Linked DNA regions of Homo sapiens: region 2 is linked to region 1. Evidence: fine-mapped expression QTL. Tissue or cell type: whole blood. Region 1 holds a variant in brackets; the other region holds the start of a gene. All regions are shown on one strand. Distances are between the middles of the regions.

Region 1 (8,108 bases):
TCACGAATCACTGCAGGCGGCTGGGGCTGGGGAGGTGGGAGCAACAAAGACAGCCAAGTGAGGGTGGCGTCTCGCCTCACCGGGGTCCTCGCTAACCTGCGCACTCCCTGAAAAGCGGCCCCGCTTCGGGGCCCACGCCGTTTCGGCCTCCGACTTCGGAACCCGGTGGCTTGCAGCGGCGCCGAAAGGCCCACCGACGACCCCTCCCCTTAGTAGCAAGCCGGAGGGAGCTAAATAAGCCCCATCCATAATCCCAGTGCCACCATCCAGAGCGTTTTAACGTCACTCAGAAAGCACCGATGGCAAAGCGGCGCGTGGCGTCTCATTCACTCAGCATTCAGTTTACTGAGCCCTCGCCATGTGCCAAGCTCAGTGCCGGGCTCTGGTGATAACAGCGTTGTCTGCAGACAGTACGCACCCTGCCCTGGGAGCTTGTAATCTAGTGGGGGAGACAGACAATAAAGAAGTGAGAAAATAATCAAATTTGGATAAAGCCTGTGCAGGAAAAGTACAAATAGTGTGATTAGGAAAGGAGGAGGTGACATTTAAGCTGAACCCTGAAAGATATGAAAGAGCCAGGAAAAAGCTTTCCAGAAAACAAGTCAGAAGGAGGGACCAAATCTTGATGCTTTGGAACTAAAAGGTGGTGATCATGATTGGCGCCAGGAAAGCTGGGGAGAGTACCAGAAAGTAAGGCTGGACAGGTTGGCAGGGACCAGATCGTGGATTGCATACTAGTCCATGGGCAGGTGCAGTCCATGGGCAGGCCACTTCATTCCAAAATCAATGGGAGGGCATTGAATGAGTGGCTTAACCCCAAGGCGTGACACGGTCTGACTTATATTTCTTTTAACTAAACTTTTGTCTTTTGGGATGATTGTAGATTCACATGCATTTGTAAGAAATAATACAGAGAGATCTGGGGTCCCCCTTGCCCAATTTCCCCCAATGCAAGACTACACTATAAGATAACTAGAATATTGACATTAATACAATCTACCAATCTTATTTTGATTTCTTCAGTTTTACTTCTACTGTGTGTGTGTGTACGCGCGTGCACGTCTGGTATGTGTGTGTTCTATACAATTTTATCACGTGTGGCCTCTTTCCACTACCATGGTCAATTATAAAACAGTTTCATCATTGCAAGGATCTTACCTGTTGTATTGTAATTATAAAACAGCAATAACTATCTCCTCAGTTCCCCAAGTCTTTCACCATTGGCAACCACTGATCCGTCCTCCATTTCTGTAAGTTTGATATTTTGAGAATGTTTTGTAAATGAATCATACAATATTCATTTTGAGATTGGCTTTTCTCACTCGGTTTTGAGTCCCTTGAGATTCATCCAAGTTGTTGGGTGTTTCCATAGCTTGCTCTTTTTTATTGCTGAGTAGTATTCCAGATCTGGTTTACATTTTTAAAAGACCACCTTGACTACTATATGGAGAATGGTTCAGAAGAGATTAAAAATTTAAATAGGGAGATTAGTTAGGAGGCTTTCTCAATAGTTCCTATCAAAGCTGATGGTGGTTTAGATTAGGGTGGTGCTAGTGGAGGAAAGTGGAAGGATTTGATGGAACAGGGTTGCAGAGGGAATTGGAGTTGAAGTAGAGACAGCATAGGGTAGACAACTGTTTTGAGACTTTCCAATGTAAATGGGAAGAAAAATGGAGCAGAACTGGAGGAGCGAGTAGGGACAAGCAAAGATTCTCTTCTCTCTTTGTGATTTGAGAGATGAGAGCCTGTTGGTCAACAGTTTAGGGATAATCAGTAGAGAGGGGTTGGTGAGGCATGACAGGAGGGTTTACTAAAGGAGTCAAGTCCCCTGCCTAGGTGAGATGGAATAAGGGCTGGATTCATGGGGAGAATTGGCCCTCCATCTGCCGAAAGTCATTCTTCACTGTACAGAAGACCATGGAGGTAGATGATGATGACAGGGGCGGGTGTAGGGATGGTGTGGTATACACAGATCTAGCAAATAGATCCTCATGATTCCTATTTGCCCCATGTCGCACAAACTGGCTAGTGGTCTCCCTTACCAGAGAACCAGCAGCATAAGCGCTTACAAAGTACCCTTCTCTGCTCCTAGCACCAGGGGCCTGGGCTTTCTCTTTTCCCCTTCTAAGCCCTCAGAAGCACTGAAGTTTGGTCCTTCTAGATGGCAAGAGAAGTCCCGCTACACTGCCTAGGAGAAGAGGAAGCCAATCTGCCCCCACTCCATCATGGAAAGGCATTGAACAATTAGCTTGGCCACAGACAACTCCCCACCCCATACCAGCCCAAAGAAACAGCCCAGCCCAAAAGAAACAGCCAAGAGGCACCCATGATGGAAGGCTCTGGACAGAGCACCCTCTTTCAGGGAAACTTCTGGCTATTCTTTGGCATTCAATCAGTGTTAGTTGTGATTCATTCTTCTCAAGACTCCTTCCTTTCTCCCTCTTCCTTTATTCATTCTTCCTTCTTGCCTTTCCAAGGAACAGAGCACGAGGAAAACGGCCTTCAATTTCAATAGAATTTAAGCAAGAATTTCCAAGAATTTCCTTGGAAGGAAATATGGAGCATTTATCAGCACACAAAGTAATCAAGTCCTTTACATTCTCTTCAAAAAGTACCATTAGAACTAATAATTCTAAGTTATTGAAAATGTATTATGTAATGGACAGTTTGCATACATCATTTTATTTACTCTTATATGAGATACTTTACAGATGAGGAAACCGAGGCTTAAGCAACCTTGGAACCAGGATTTAAAACCAAGCAGCATATTTCCAGAGCCCACAATCCAAACCTGTATACTCCACTTCCAAAACAATGAAAAAAGACTGTTCATCACTTTTATTACAGTCATCCAAAGTGGCTGCTTCTTTCAGGTTAGTTATTTTTCCCCCAAAGTGGTGCTAAGACCTTCATCTGACTTTGTCAATGGAATCCACAGGGAAACAGTGGCTCCATTTCATGATCATCACGTGTCCTGTCAATGGTGGAGCCCAAAACAGCTCTCAGAGAACACATCTACTTCTCCAGCCAGCCTTACCTCCTGCCTCTCCCCAGCCTGTAGGCTCTTAGTCCGGGATCTAGAAGGATCTCCAAAAACATCCTGTGCATTCCCCTCTTGAAACCTTAGTTACTGCGGTAACTAAGTAACCTTCTGCCTAGAGCAGTTTCAACAACTTCCTGTAGGTCCAAGGCTGAACTCTCCCCTGCCTGCCCC[C/G]ACCCTGATCTATTTCTTCCCGCCCCCTCCCCGCCCCCCCCCGTATTTCCTGTTTCCATTAATGGCACACCACCCACCCACGTGGGCAAAGTAAAAGCTATTACTTTTGACTCCATCTTTTTCACATCCCGTAGGTCATCAAGTCCTAGAAATTCTACTTCTGAAATAGTGAAACCTCACCGTCTCTTTGAAGCCGTTCCTGACCAACTCAGGCAGAATCCAGTTCTCCCGTGGCATTTGGTCATTTGGTTCATGCCGATAGGTAATCGTGACATACCTGGTCATTTCATGTGTCTGTTTTCCCCAGCAGATCATAAGCTCCTTGAGGGCAAGCAATGTATTTTCCTTGTTTATACTTCCAGTTTCTTGGAACATGGTAAGCATTAAATTATAATAGTGTTGTTGTTTTGTTGTTATTGTTGTTGTTGTTGTTATGGAGTTTCACTCTTTTGCCCAGGCTGGAGTGAAGTGGCCTGATCTCTGCTCACTGCAAGCTCCACCCACCAGGTTTAAGCGATTCTCCTGCCTCAGCCTTCCGAGTAGCTGGGATTACAGGAGCCCACCACCACGCCTGGCTAATTTTTTGTATTTTTAGTAGAGATGGGGTTTCGCCATGTTGAAAACTCATTGTGGTGAAATATAAACATATACATAATAGAGAAAATAATGTAATGAACTTCCATGCACCCAACACCCAACTTCAGAAATTATCAACACATGATTTATTTTGTTTTAATTGTAGTTCTCCTACCAATTCCCTCCAACACACATACACCGGATTATTTTAAATCAAATGCAAAACATCATATCATTCCATCCAGAAATACTTAAGTGCATATGGCTAAAAGATAAAGATGCTTTTCTCCTTTTTAGAACATAAGAACAATATCATCATCACACCTAGGAACAGTTAGCGAAAATTTCTTAATACCAAAAAATACCCAGTCAGGATTCTGAATTCTCCAGATGTCTCCCAAATGTTTTTACAGTTCATTTATTTCAAGCAGGGTATTTTTTGTGACATGTAAAATTCATATGAAATTCACATTTCAGTGTCAAGAAATAAAGTGTTATTGGAACACAAGTACATTCATTTGTTTACATATTATCTGTGGTTACTTCCTCAGTACAACAGTAGAACAGAGTAGTTGTGACAGAGATCATATGGCCCACGAAGCTGAAGATATTTACTGGTTCTTCACAGGAAATGTTTGTTGACCCCTGATACAAACAATTTCTATTTTGGCGACCTGGTAATCTGTTTAATGATAAGCATCTTTCCATGTCAAGAAATAATCTTTTTTTTTACTATTATTTTTAATTGACACATAATCATTGTGCATCTTTATGGGGTACAGTGTGATATTTCAATACATGTATACAATGTGTAATGATCAAATCAGGATAATTAGCATACCCATCACTTCAAATGCTGATCTTTTTTTTGTTTTGTTTTGTTTTGTTTTTTTGAGACGGAGTCCCCAGGCTGGAGTGCAGTGGCGCAATCTCAGCTCACTGCAACCTCTGCCCCTGGGTTCAAGTGATTCTCTTGCCTCAGCCTCCCGAGTAACTGGGATTACAGGCACACACCACCATGCCTGGCTAATTATTTTGTATTTTCAGTAGACTTGGGGTTTCTCCATGTTGGCCAGGTTGATCTCGAACTCCTGACCTCAGGTGATCCGCCCGCCTTGGCCTCCCAAAGTGCTGGGATTACAGGCGTGAGCTACTGTGCCTGGCCTGATCATTTCTTTGTGTTGGGAACATTCAATTTGGCTCTTCTAGATTTTTGAAAATATACAATAATTGTTAACGATAGTCACCCTACAGTGCCATACAACACCAGAACTTATTCCTTCCATCTAGCTGTAACATTGTTTGCATTAACCATCTTATCACTACTACCTTTCCCCTTACCCTTCCCAGGCTCTAGTAACCACTATTCTACTCTGTACTTACATGAGATTAACGTTTTTAACTTCCACATATGAGTCAGAATATGCAGTATTTGTCTTTCTGTTCTTGGCTTATTTCACTTAACATAATGTCCTCCAAGCTCATAATGTTGCTGTGAATGACAGGGTTTCATTCTTTTGTTTTATGGCTGAATAGTACTCCAGTGTGTGTGTGTGCGTGTGTGTGTGTGTGTATCACATTTTCCTTATCCATTCATCTGTTGATGGACACGGGTTGACTCCATATTGTGGCTGTTGTGAATAGTGCAATAAAACTTGGGAGTGCACATTTCTCTTTGACATATTGATTTTGTTTCCTTTGGATATATACCCAGTAGTGGGATTTCTGGATTATAGGCTAGTTCTATTTTTAGCTTTTTGAGGAACTTCTATACCGTTTTCCATAATAGTTGTACTAATTTACATTCCCACCAACCATCTACAATAGTTCAGTTTTCCCTACATCCTTCCCAGAATTTGTTATTTTTGTCCTTTTGATAATAGCCATTCTAACTGGGGTGAGGAGACATCTCATTGTGCCAGCCACGAATTTTAAAGGCCCATTTATTACATTTGGTTGCTATGTCTCTGATTAATGGTTCTTGGGTGAATGGAGGGATGGGTGAATGAATTCTCTCTACCTTCTTTCACCCATTTCTACCACAGTCCAAATTTTACCTGTTTTACAAAGATCTGTCTATCTGATGTTGGAACCTGCTCAAACCCTTCTGTCTCTCTCTCTCTCTTTTTCTTTTCTTTGCTTTTTTTTTTTTTTTTTTTTTTTTTGAGACGGGGTCTCACTCTGTCACCCAGTTGGAGTTCAGTGGCGCGATCTCGGCTCGCTGCAACTTCAGCCTCCCAGGCTCAAGTGATCCTCCCACCTCAGCCTCCTGAATAGCTGGGACCAGAGGCATGCACCACCATGCCTCTCTTCTCTCTCTTTTTCTGTAGTACGTATCATAAATGTCTCTTGCCCTTATTACACTTAATCTTATATTAAAGATTTTATGAAGGCAGCTTATCTCTCATGTAAAGTTTTCAGCTTCTTGAGGGTAAGTAAAATGCTTACTCACTATTGCGTATTAAAACCGCAATTACTTTTGCACCAACCTAATACCTAGTGGCACCAAGCACAGGGCCTTGCTCATATTAGACAACCAAATAAATTATTTCTAAGCAGAATGGAGTTAATAATTAAGACCAACATTCATAGCATCCTTTATCTCCCTCAGGTATAGTCTAAGCACCATGAGTCTTGGAGTCTTGGAATCTTGCAAACATGGGTTCAAGTCTAAGCTTGGCCTTGGTTGGTGGTGTGGCCCAGGGTAAGTTATAAACTCAGGTGTGTTCAAACATTTTTGTTCACATGCTCCCTAAAATAATTTTGAAAACCTGTGTGCCCCCACGCCATTCAGTTTAGAAATAATTTATGTGGTTGTCTAATATAAGAAAGGCCCTGTGCTTGGTGCACTAGGTACACAATAGTGAGTGAGACATTTTACTTACCTTACCATTCACGTTACAAGCTGGTATCTAAACTTTTTCATCCAATGTTTAAATAGTTACAAAACGAAGTTATTTGGGGCATATAGTATATACTGACATTCTAAAATGATTACATCACTTTTTTATTCTATCCAATTAAATTTAAATAGAGTAGTTGTTTCATACCCACCATTAGCCATTTAAATATTATACATGATTAACTTCATTAACAGTTGGAAATTTTACATTGCTCCTTTTTTCTTCTTTAAGTCATATCTCCTTCACTTCTTTCACAGAATTTTGTACTAATGTAATATATTTTACACGTGTAAGTCTGTTTTTCATCACTCTATATACATCTCTGCAATGCAAATATGTACATAAATTACATTTTTAAAATTCTTTTACCATAAAGTTCTACGTGTTAAAAGTTTTCTAGGCCAGGCGCGGTGGCTCACGCCTGTAATCTCAGCACTTTGGGAGGCCGAGGTGGGCGGATCACCTGAGGTCAGGAGTTCGAGACCAGCCTGACCAACATGGAGAAACACCATCTCTACTAAAAATACAAAATTAGCCGGGCGTGGTGGCACATGCCTATAATCCCAGCTACTAGGGAGGCTGAGGCAGGAGAATCACTTGAACCTGGGAGGCGGAGGTTGCAGTGAGCTGAGATCATGCCATTGCACTCCAGCCTGGGCAACAAAAGTGAAACTCCATCTCACAAAAAAAAAAAAAAGTTTTCTACGGGGTGGAATATAAAAAAGTTTTCTGGATAGAGTTATCTTTAGTACACAATTAATCAAAATAACTTAAATATTTAACAAGATTTGAAAAATAATTTAAATGCACAATGTAAACTTTTTTGGAAATGTAGTTCTTAGACATGGATGAAGTCTTTTTTAATTAGTTCATGCCATTTGTGGATAAATATTGTTTATGGTTAGAATGAGACAGGGCTCTGTATCAATGTTATTTTGACTTTTTACATGTTTTAAAAATATTAAGGCTAAGAAGCTTTGTTTACATAAATAAGTAGAAGGACGTTTCTCACAGTGTTGCCATACAAACCTTTGTATTTCTTCTGAGTTATGTAACTGAAATCCCATCCCATCCTGAATCTATTGTCAAAAATTAATTTTAATGATTTATTGGTTGACAATTCCATTAGATCCTTCAGAAGTTTTTTTGAAGACAAAGAATTGGAAACCACCTGTGTTGCAAAAGGTCTTGTTATGCAGCGTTCAGGTTCACTCATCTTTCCACAACAACACCCTTATTTTGGCTTCTCCCTTTGTTTGGCACGGGGAGGTTTATATCCCCTGCGGCAATACATCAAAGTCAGATTAGTGATGGAGAAAGGGGTTGTCTTTCTTTTGTAAAATGGGAGAAGGGCTGTTGAGAAAAAGGAGGAGGAAAAGGAGAATCCACCTGCCTCAGACACAGCTTTCTCAGGC
Region 2 (8,109 bases), 53 kb before region 1:
ATCTGAGCCTCTATTTTGTCCATACCAACCCTATTTCAGGACCACACTGATTTCCTTTCTGTAAGGACTTCTTTCTTGGGCCTATTCTCCTCTGCTTTCATGGACTTATGAACCTAATGCAATATGACATACTATTTCCTGATTTTAAAAATCATCTTATATGACGTGTAAGGTGCTGAAGTCTAACCTACACCTTAGGTCCACATAAATGTCCCCTGATTTTCTAAGACAGAAAGCATCATTATTAAATAATTTAATTAAAAATTAACTAAATTAAAGTTTTACAAGCTTAGAATACAGTTAGAAATGTGGCTGGGTGATAAAATTTTAGACATTTATTCCAAAAGGGTAGCCTGACTTTCTATGCCTGCTTCAAAAGACACATCATTTTCACTTAATAAACAAGCTTCCTTTTTCAGAAAATTCTTGAACTACATCCAACATGCTGAGAGGTGCCTAAATAAACCTCAGTATCTTAATTAAAAGTTTTGGCTTTCAATTTAATCATGTACACATACAAGTAATATAACATTACAACATTTGTTTTTTTCTTTTTTCTTTTTTACTATAAACCTCTCATTACAGTCGATTTGTATTTAATAAATCTTGCTTGTGTTTTTACATGTATTTTCTCATGTATTTCTTCCTATTGTTCATCTTCTCCCTCATGCCTGAGTTGCTCAAACTATGAATATTTAAGGAGAATGTGAATATCATGAGTAGGTAGCATTTTTCTATGTGTTTTCCATGAAGGGTGTAATGTACAGTGTAAACAATGAACAACAACCCAAATGGAAAAAAATCAGGTTATTTCAGATCTGTTCTTCACTAAATCCAACCTACCAGTACATTAGTGACTCCACATATAAACACTGGCTTCTAAAGAAAGGGTATAATGCTTTCCTCAGAACATTCAACAGATGGAGCAAAGCCTTAGCCAATGAATAGGACACTTGTGTAATAGACATGCTAATGCACCTGGAGGTGTCGTCAGACATTTGGGAATAAATACCTAAGTAGCTGCAATGAGACGGAGCTCATGAGTCACGGCTGAAAAGTAGTCTTTCATACAATTTCATACAAAAATCAGAAAGTGTTTTTTCCCTTCAAAATAGAACGTGTACAGAATGATTCAATGTAATTAGCAACTTCACTGGTATGCTGCATTTAGAAAAAAAACAAATCTTTTTTGGGTCACTGATGTATAACTAATGCCATTTTAGATTATATCGGGTGTCAGGAGGGTTCGATATAGATTATTAAAAGAAAAATTATGTGCCACTGAACTTCCTGCAGTCCAGATTCAATTCTAGTACCATTTTGTCTGTATATGAAGATTTTTCATAATGTTGCACAGATTACGTGCAACACAGCCCCTCTTTCATATGGGAAAAAAAGCATTTCTGACCCGGCAGCAAAAGAGCATGTGTTTTTAGTTTCTCCAGCTGTGGTGAAGTAGTAGGTAGTCATTTGGTGGTCATCAAAAGCACAAAATGTTCAGTTTCACTCTCACTCAAATCTTCTGTATTTTAAGAAGCCAATCCAGTTGGATTACTTTCCTCTCATCCTACCCTCTCATTTTCCATCCCTGCCCTGAGAAAAGACTGGCGGGCTTGTGCGGCCCACTGAGCAGCAGCTGGTGAAGGGAATCGATGGCTGTGTAATATGGCAAGTGACCTGATCCCCCTCCACACCCCAAACCTGGTTTTCGACTTGAAAGGCCAAAGGCTAAAGAAATTGAATCTACATAATTTTGCAGACAGAAAGTCTTCAATGTCAAGAGTATACATTGTTTTTGTCCTTGAAATGTCCTCTCAGTATATGGATAGTCACTAAAAATGGATTTGGATCCAATTATCCTAGCTTCTATTTTGCCCATACTGAGCCCGTTTCAGGGCAACACTGATTTTCTATGAGGACTTCTCTGTCTCATGGACTGATTCTTCTCTGCTTTCATGAATCTATTAACCTAATGCAATACAAAATGCAATTTCCTGAATTCAAAAATCATCTAAAAGGTATAAATAATTGGTCCCATTTAGCCACAGTTATTAGAGCCTCCAGACTTACATACACAAGAACGACATAAGAATTTGGTGCAATTTAAAACCCAAGGTTGGGTATGCTATAAACTTTCTGTCACTATTTAAACTTTTAAACTTTCTGTCACTATTCTGTCACTTAATTAGTAAACAAAATGAGAGTTATTCTACCAGGTAACATGCATTTAAGGTTCATCAGGACAACTAGCACAGCTGACTAGTTTGCCTACACCCAGAGAATGTGTATCTTGGCTGATAACCACAATCTCAAGCATTTGGTACCATGTTTGTGAAACAGCTCCTGAGGGTTGGAAAAAAAAAAAAACCAGACAACTTTTGAACACTTGGGAACAGGGAAGACATTACATATTAATTCATTAAGGTAGGGCATTCCATTGCAGCATATTTAAAACCCCAAAAAGAGAAATTTCCTAAAGTATTTCCATTGTTTAAATATTGACAGGCAATGAGTTTTAAAAAATGATTTTTCAAAAAAAAAAAAAAACATAGATAATGACATCCCTTAATCTGAAAGCTGGGAGACAGGATGAAGTGCCTTCTTTATATCTAACCGTCTGACTTTACCAGCCCCAAGAAAGGGAACCGTTACTTAGGCAGAGGGCCACAGGGCCACAGCCACCCTCCTGGCTTCAAATAACTGGGCTTTTGGCCCCTCAGCCCCTAGTTCATAGATTTCTTGTCGATGGCCAAAGGGCTTCCTTAATTGTAAGGTTACAAAACCAGAAGAAAATGCTCATGTCCCAAGGAGTCCAAAATGTGCCCCTTTTTCTGCTAAAAACAATTAATAACATACTTAGCATATCAAAAGGAACATAGCTGTTACTTCGGGAAGATTTAAAACATTGTCAGCAAAAGGGAAGATGTGCTAGGTCATTATGGACTTTCTTAGTTACAAATGTTCCTCCTTTCAGCTCCACATTCGATTTACCTTCTCCAAACACCTTGGATGTAAAGCACTGTCAAGATGAAGAATTGTATCTTATAAAAAAGAAAGCCAAAAATTCCTAACCAGAAAAACCTTTCCTCCCACAATCTCTTATAGTTTCATGAGATGTCCTGAAAAAGGTAAAAATATAGTGGTAACATGTTTATATACTTCTTTTTAAAATAAATCACTCAAACTGTTCATTGTACTTGAACAATATTTTGTCTTTGAAATAGCATGAAAGGCAAAGGCAAAACAGAGACAAGCTATAATTTATTTACTATTCAGACAAGACTAAAATCATTTCATCAAAAACCATCTTTTAGCCCAATGACGGATTCACTGCCCTAACAAAACTGTGCTCAATATAAGATAAAGAGCATGAAGTTTTACCTGAGTGTCTATGGGAAGCCATGGCTCAGAGACCAAGTTCAGGAGCAGCACCTAGACCAGTCTTCCCTCAACCCCAGCTGATAAGGCTGTGGCTCATTTGTGAACATACATTTAAGGGGAAGCGGCTAACACAAAAATAACCGAGAGCAGATGTCCCACCCCTCCCCAGAGATCACAACCTTAATCCCACTAGAAAATTCTTAACCATTTTAGGTGATCCAAGGGAGAAGAATAGGACCCAGTAAAAATACCAAACGCTACATATAAATACCTGCGGGGCTACTCAGCATCCAAATTAGCTCCAGAGCCAGAGAGGCCACATAGAAAGTCATCCCTGTACCGGAATAAAATTTGGACTCGGCTCTGGCATAGCTTAACGCTGAGCCAACCTTATTAATCCACTTTATATGCCTCAAGAGCTTGCATTTGGCCCTGTAAATAATACATTTTTGTGCTGTTAATGATAAAAGTAACTCTAAGAGATAGACTTATGTTACCAGTGTAACTCAAGGAGATTAGACAGTATGAATATAGAGATTAAGGGGATTATAGATGTTGTCACTCTATGTCCTCCTTAGTATGTTCCAGAGATCAGCAGATTACTGTACAGGAAAGGAGAGTGATCGTAATCTCCCCACCTCCTTAACGGCAGACAGCACAGAACAAGATGGGGAGACTATGCCTATCCCCATCACACACACAATGAAGACATTTTGTCTCACAAACTCAACCTCTTGTTTTTCAGCATCAGGGACAATAAAAGGAAAAACATGAATGAAAATGAAGACATCAACCTAAAATGTTGTAATAGCTCAACAGGCCATCAGATGTCTGGGGGCTGGCTATTAGGAGCATGTTCTAGGAAAAGAAAGCCCCCAAGTCCCTCCAGGACCTTCTTCCACATTCCTTCTCTGGCCTTACCCTTAGCCCCCTTTCCCTCACTCCCACCTCACTGGCCTCCTCACTGTCCCCTGTGCCCAGAGTCATGGTTGTTCCTTTCCCTACTTCAAGTCTGCTGGTATTGCACTGATTTCTCTCCTTGCTGTCTGATCTCCTGCTTTGCTCCATGAAGGCAGGGATTTAGTACTGGAGCTCACTGCAGTGGCCCCAGAGCCTAGAACACTGCCCAGCTCCCAGGAGGCTCTCAATAACTATTCCTTGAAAGAATGAACTAAATAACTGAAAAATCCATCAAGCCTCCAAAACATAGTCCCACCTGCAATCCTGAAAGTGGTTTTGGCCACTCAACTTCAAGGAAGGCAGCTGACCTTCTCGCTGGTACAGACACCTTTATAGCCACTGTCTTGTTTAAGTGGTTTTGGCCCTATTCACACATCTCCCCTACCAGGTTGAGGGCCAGGGCAGTGCTTTGCTTGTCTTCATGTTCCTATAGCACACAGTAGGTGAGCAGTAAATGCTCCATGAATAAATGAATGAATGAGTTCCCCAATTCTTACGATCTTCAAATGTTTAAGGAAAAGTTATTCTAAAAGACAACTGACATCAGTAACTCCCAGTTAGCTAGAAAATGACACAATAAAAGCCAGGTTGTTACGAGTAAATTTATTACATGTTAGAGGAAAAAAATAAGCCTGGGAAAAGAAGAGAAGCTACACTGTGCTCTGGCTCCACGCCTTTCTAGTCTCTTTCTCATCCAGCCTGATTAAATTATGGTGCGGAGATTAGCCAGTTGTAACAACACCACACCCCTAAAATAAACTGAAACTTTTCACCTAGAGGAAATTCTCTTACTTTATTAGATGATTAACCTTAATGAACCCTGAATTTTTTATTTTAGCAAGTTATATTTTTAGGAAGAGCCCATGTATGTTGAAATGCCTCTCTTGCAGCGCTGTGAACAATAGGCTTGGTGTGCCAAATACTTTCCTTTAGGAAGTCAATTCCTGTTTCAAGCTATGCATCAGGAAGTGTCTTCTTTTAGGCAAGTATGGTAGTTCTTTAGGTTTCTGATCATTTTGAAAAGTGACAACAGAATATGGATAGACAGCTTTATGAAAGTATCAAAAAACAAATCTGTTTTGCCTAAAATACAAGAGAAAATTCAAAGACAAGAGAATCACTTTTTGACCACCATGAATTAGTCAACTATGACCAGCCAGGATGGACTGGGAGCTTGGGCCTGCAACAATAGCATTTATTCCAGTTACTTCCATTTGCATCAACCAGGTAACTGTGCCCTCCTAAAAACTTCATGAAGCATGACCACTACCTGCTCTGACATCTGGCCCTACTGCAGATGTCCTCAAGCCACAGAATTAGACCTTCCACAAAACCAAGACAGAAACAGCCCCTTGCATGATGAGAAACAATTTCTTAGGAAGAATAGTTGGTAACTTTGTCCTGTCTTGGATCAGTGGCTCAGAACCCTTGCTGGCTATTTCACAGGTACCTGGAGTCACGGGTTTCATTGGCATATTAGTCAATCTTGTTATATATTAACAGTATGATGTTTAATAATATCTTTAAGAATCACTGTACTGTTTACAACGCACCTTTATATACTATTGGTGGAGTTGGCTGGTGTTTGGGAGCAACTCTCTTTGGTGTATGATGGTTACATTTCAGGCCTTCTAGTCTCACACTCTAGCAGTATCCGGACGCTTTTTTCAGTGAGTGCTAGGTATCAAACTCCCTGTTTCCCTTCCATGTGACCCTCTGCGAATCATTTACTTCAGGGTTTATCTACACATCCTTATGGTCCTACTATCTGCAGATACATTATGACCTATTATTGGGTTAACCTGTAGATAATGCCGCCCCAGCCATTGCTTTATTGTATATGACAAGCATTTATTGGACAGATGCCCTACTATGTGGTGCAAGGTATTTTACTGGTCACAAAGAATAAAATACAGTCCTTACTTTCAAGTGTAACAAGATAAATATGCAAATGACTACTATGCAAGGCAGAGCCTTACAAGTATTACAAGAAAGGTATAAAGTGTTACTGACATTTATCACAGGGAGAGATCACATCTGGTTTGGAGATGAGAAAAGACTTGATGGATGTCACGGCATTTGACCTGGTCCCTGAAGAATGATTAAGACTTTGGCATGCAGACAAGGGGGAGGGAGTGTTCCAAGAAAATGGTACCATGTCACCTAAGGTATGAGAAAAACACAGGACGTGTTCAAGAAGCAGGATGCAGCTGGGGGGGGTTGGGGTGTGACAGAAGCACAAGATAAGGAAGTAGTAGGACCGAAAGCTAGAGAGGAGGGAAAGCCACACACGGAGGATCTTTCTGCAACTGGTGCAAGGGGAGAATGAGATGGAGTCATGCAAGCAGTGATAAGAAGAGCAGATCTCAGAGAAGAGAGGAGGCAGGGAAGACAGCACAGGGTAATGCAATTGTCCACTGAGATGCAAGGAAAGACTGAAAGAATGAGAGGCAGGGGCAATGGGCATGGAAAGGAAAAACTAGATATAAGGGACACTGTGACAGGGCTACAAGAACTGAAAGAAGGGGAAGGAGCCAAGGATCTCTCTGAGGTTGTGACTCTGGGTGACTGGGAAAATAATGGGGAATATGGGAGGCAGAGCTGGTGTAGGGAAGAATGGCACTTTATTTTAGACTTCACAATGAGTTTCTTCTGAGATGTCAATAATGAACCCCCTTTAATGGGATCCCAGTTATCAAGGAGCGAGAGAGAACAGTAAGATTACAGTAGAATCACGTTTGTGGGATTTCTCACACTGCAATCTAATCCTAGCCTCTCTACCTCAGAAACACCACTGGGAGGATCAAACTTCAAAAGTTCAAAGTGGTGCAACCGAAGAATCAAACACGGCAAATTCAGTGACCCACTTAGCCCACATTTCAGGACTTCCTCATTCACAGCTTGACTTGTGGTCACCCTTCTCCCTTTACTAGATTTTTCTTTTCCTGAAGAAATTTCCAAATGGTTAAAAACTTATTCAGACAATTACTGGCCATTAGTCATGGCCAGGGGCAAGAGGCTGATAACAAACTGTAATGGAGTCTTTGTGGATTTCTCCGTGGTTTCATGTCCAGTTGTTTTTTTTTTTTTTTACATGACTCTTCTTTCCCTCATATCTACTACTAATAAATTAATAGACTGCAAGTTTTTTTCTCAATATAATTTTGTCAGGCTACTTAATCCCTCTGCCAACAATTTCTCCTGAGTGAGTCCAACTGCAAGATTAAGGCAACTAGTCATGCACTATGATATGATGTGATTCAATGTTGAGCTCTCCAGAGTATTTCTTGTCCTATGTACTCTTGCCAGAAAAAAGCTCAGAACAGCTTCAGCCATCTCATGTTCCTGTCAATCTTTAAGGTGGGAAGAGTACTTTTTCCTACTGACACGTCCAATTTTGCAAAGTCACTGCTTAAATGTCACAATTCATGGCATACCCATCAGAGAGTAAAATGAAGGAGCACCCCTGGAACCCCAAGAGGGGGGATTTGGTCATGTAAGGTCCTAATGAAAACAAACCTGAAATTCAGCCTCCCCAAAGGGTCTCTGAATCTCAGAGAAAAGGAAAAGGTATGAAAGAAGACCTGTAACAAATGAGAAGATACATGAAATAAAGGACACTGTAAACAGCAAAGCACCTGGAAAATGCTAATTAACTCCACTGAAGACCTGTTCATTTCACAGTTGACCAGGGCTTAGAATTTTCCTTATAATATTCACAGAGAGATTACGAAGCATGAGCCATGGCCCCTGTCTTTTGATTTTTGG

The links. PIP is the estimated chance that this variant, and not a neighbour inherited with it, causes the effect.
Region 2: it holds the start of FHL1, and the variant in region 1 is fine-mapped to the expression of FHL1 in whole blood (TOPMed, PIP above 0.99). The same link has a PIP of 0.9 or more in blood mononuclear cells.

Annotation. Positions count from the first base shown.
Region 1 is chrX:136,139,001-136,147,108 of GRCh38, reverse strand. It overlaps a transcript of FHL1 not described here. Among named protein-coding and RNA genes, the nearest start is that of FHL1, 54 kb to the left of the region's middle. RefSeq lists an enhancer at 2,518-3,717. The variant C/G (reference allele first, on the strand shown) is at 3,215.
Region 2 is chrX:136,192,407-136,200,515 of GRCh38, reverse strand. FHL1 (four and a half LIM domains 1) reads right to left here and starts at 3,469. Exons shown (of 6, transcript NM_001159699.2): 1 at 3,382-3,469. The coding sequence starts at 3,403.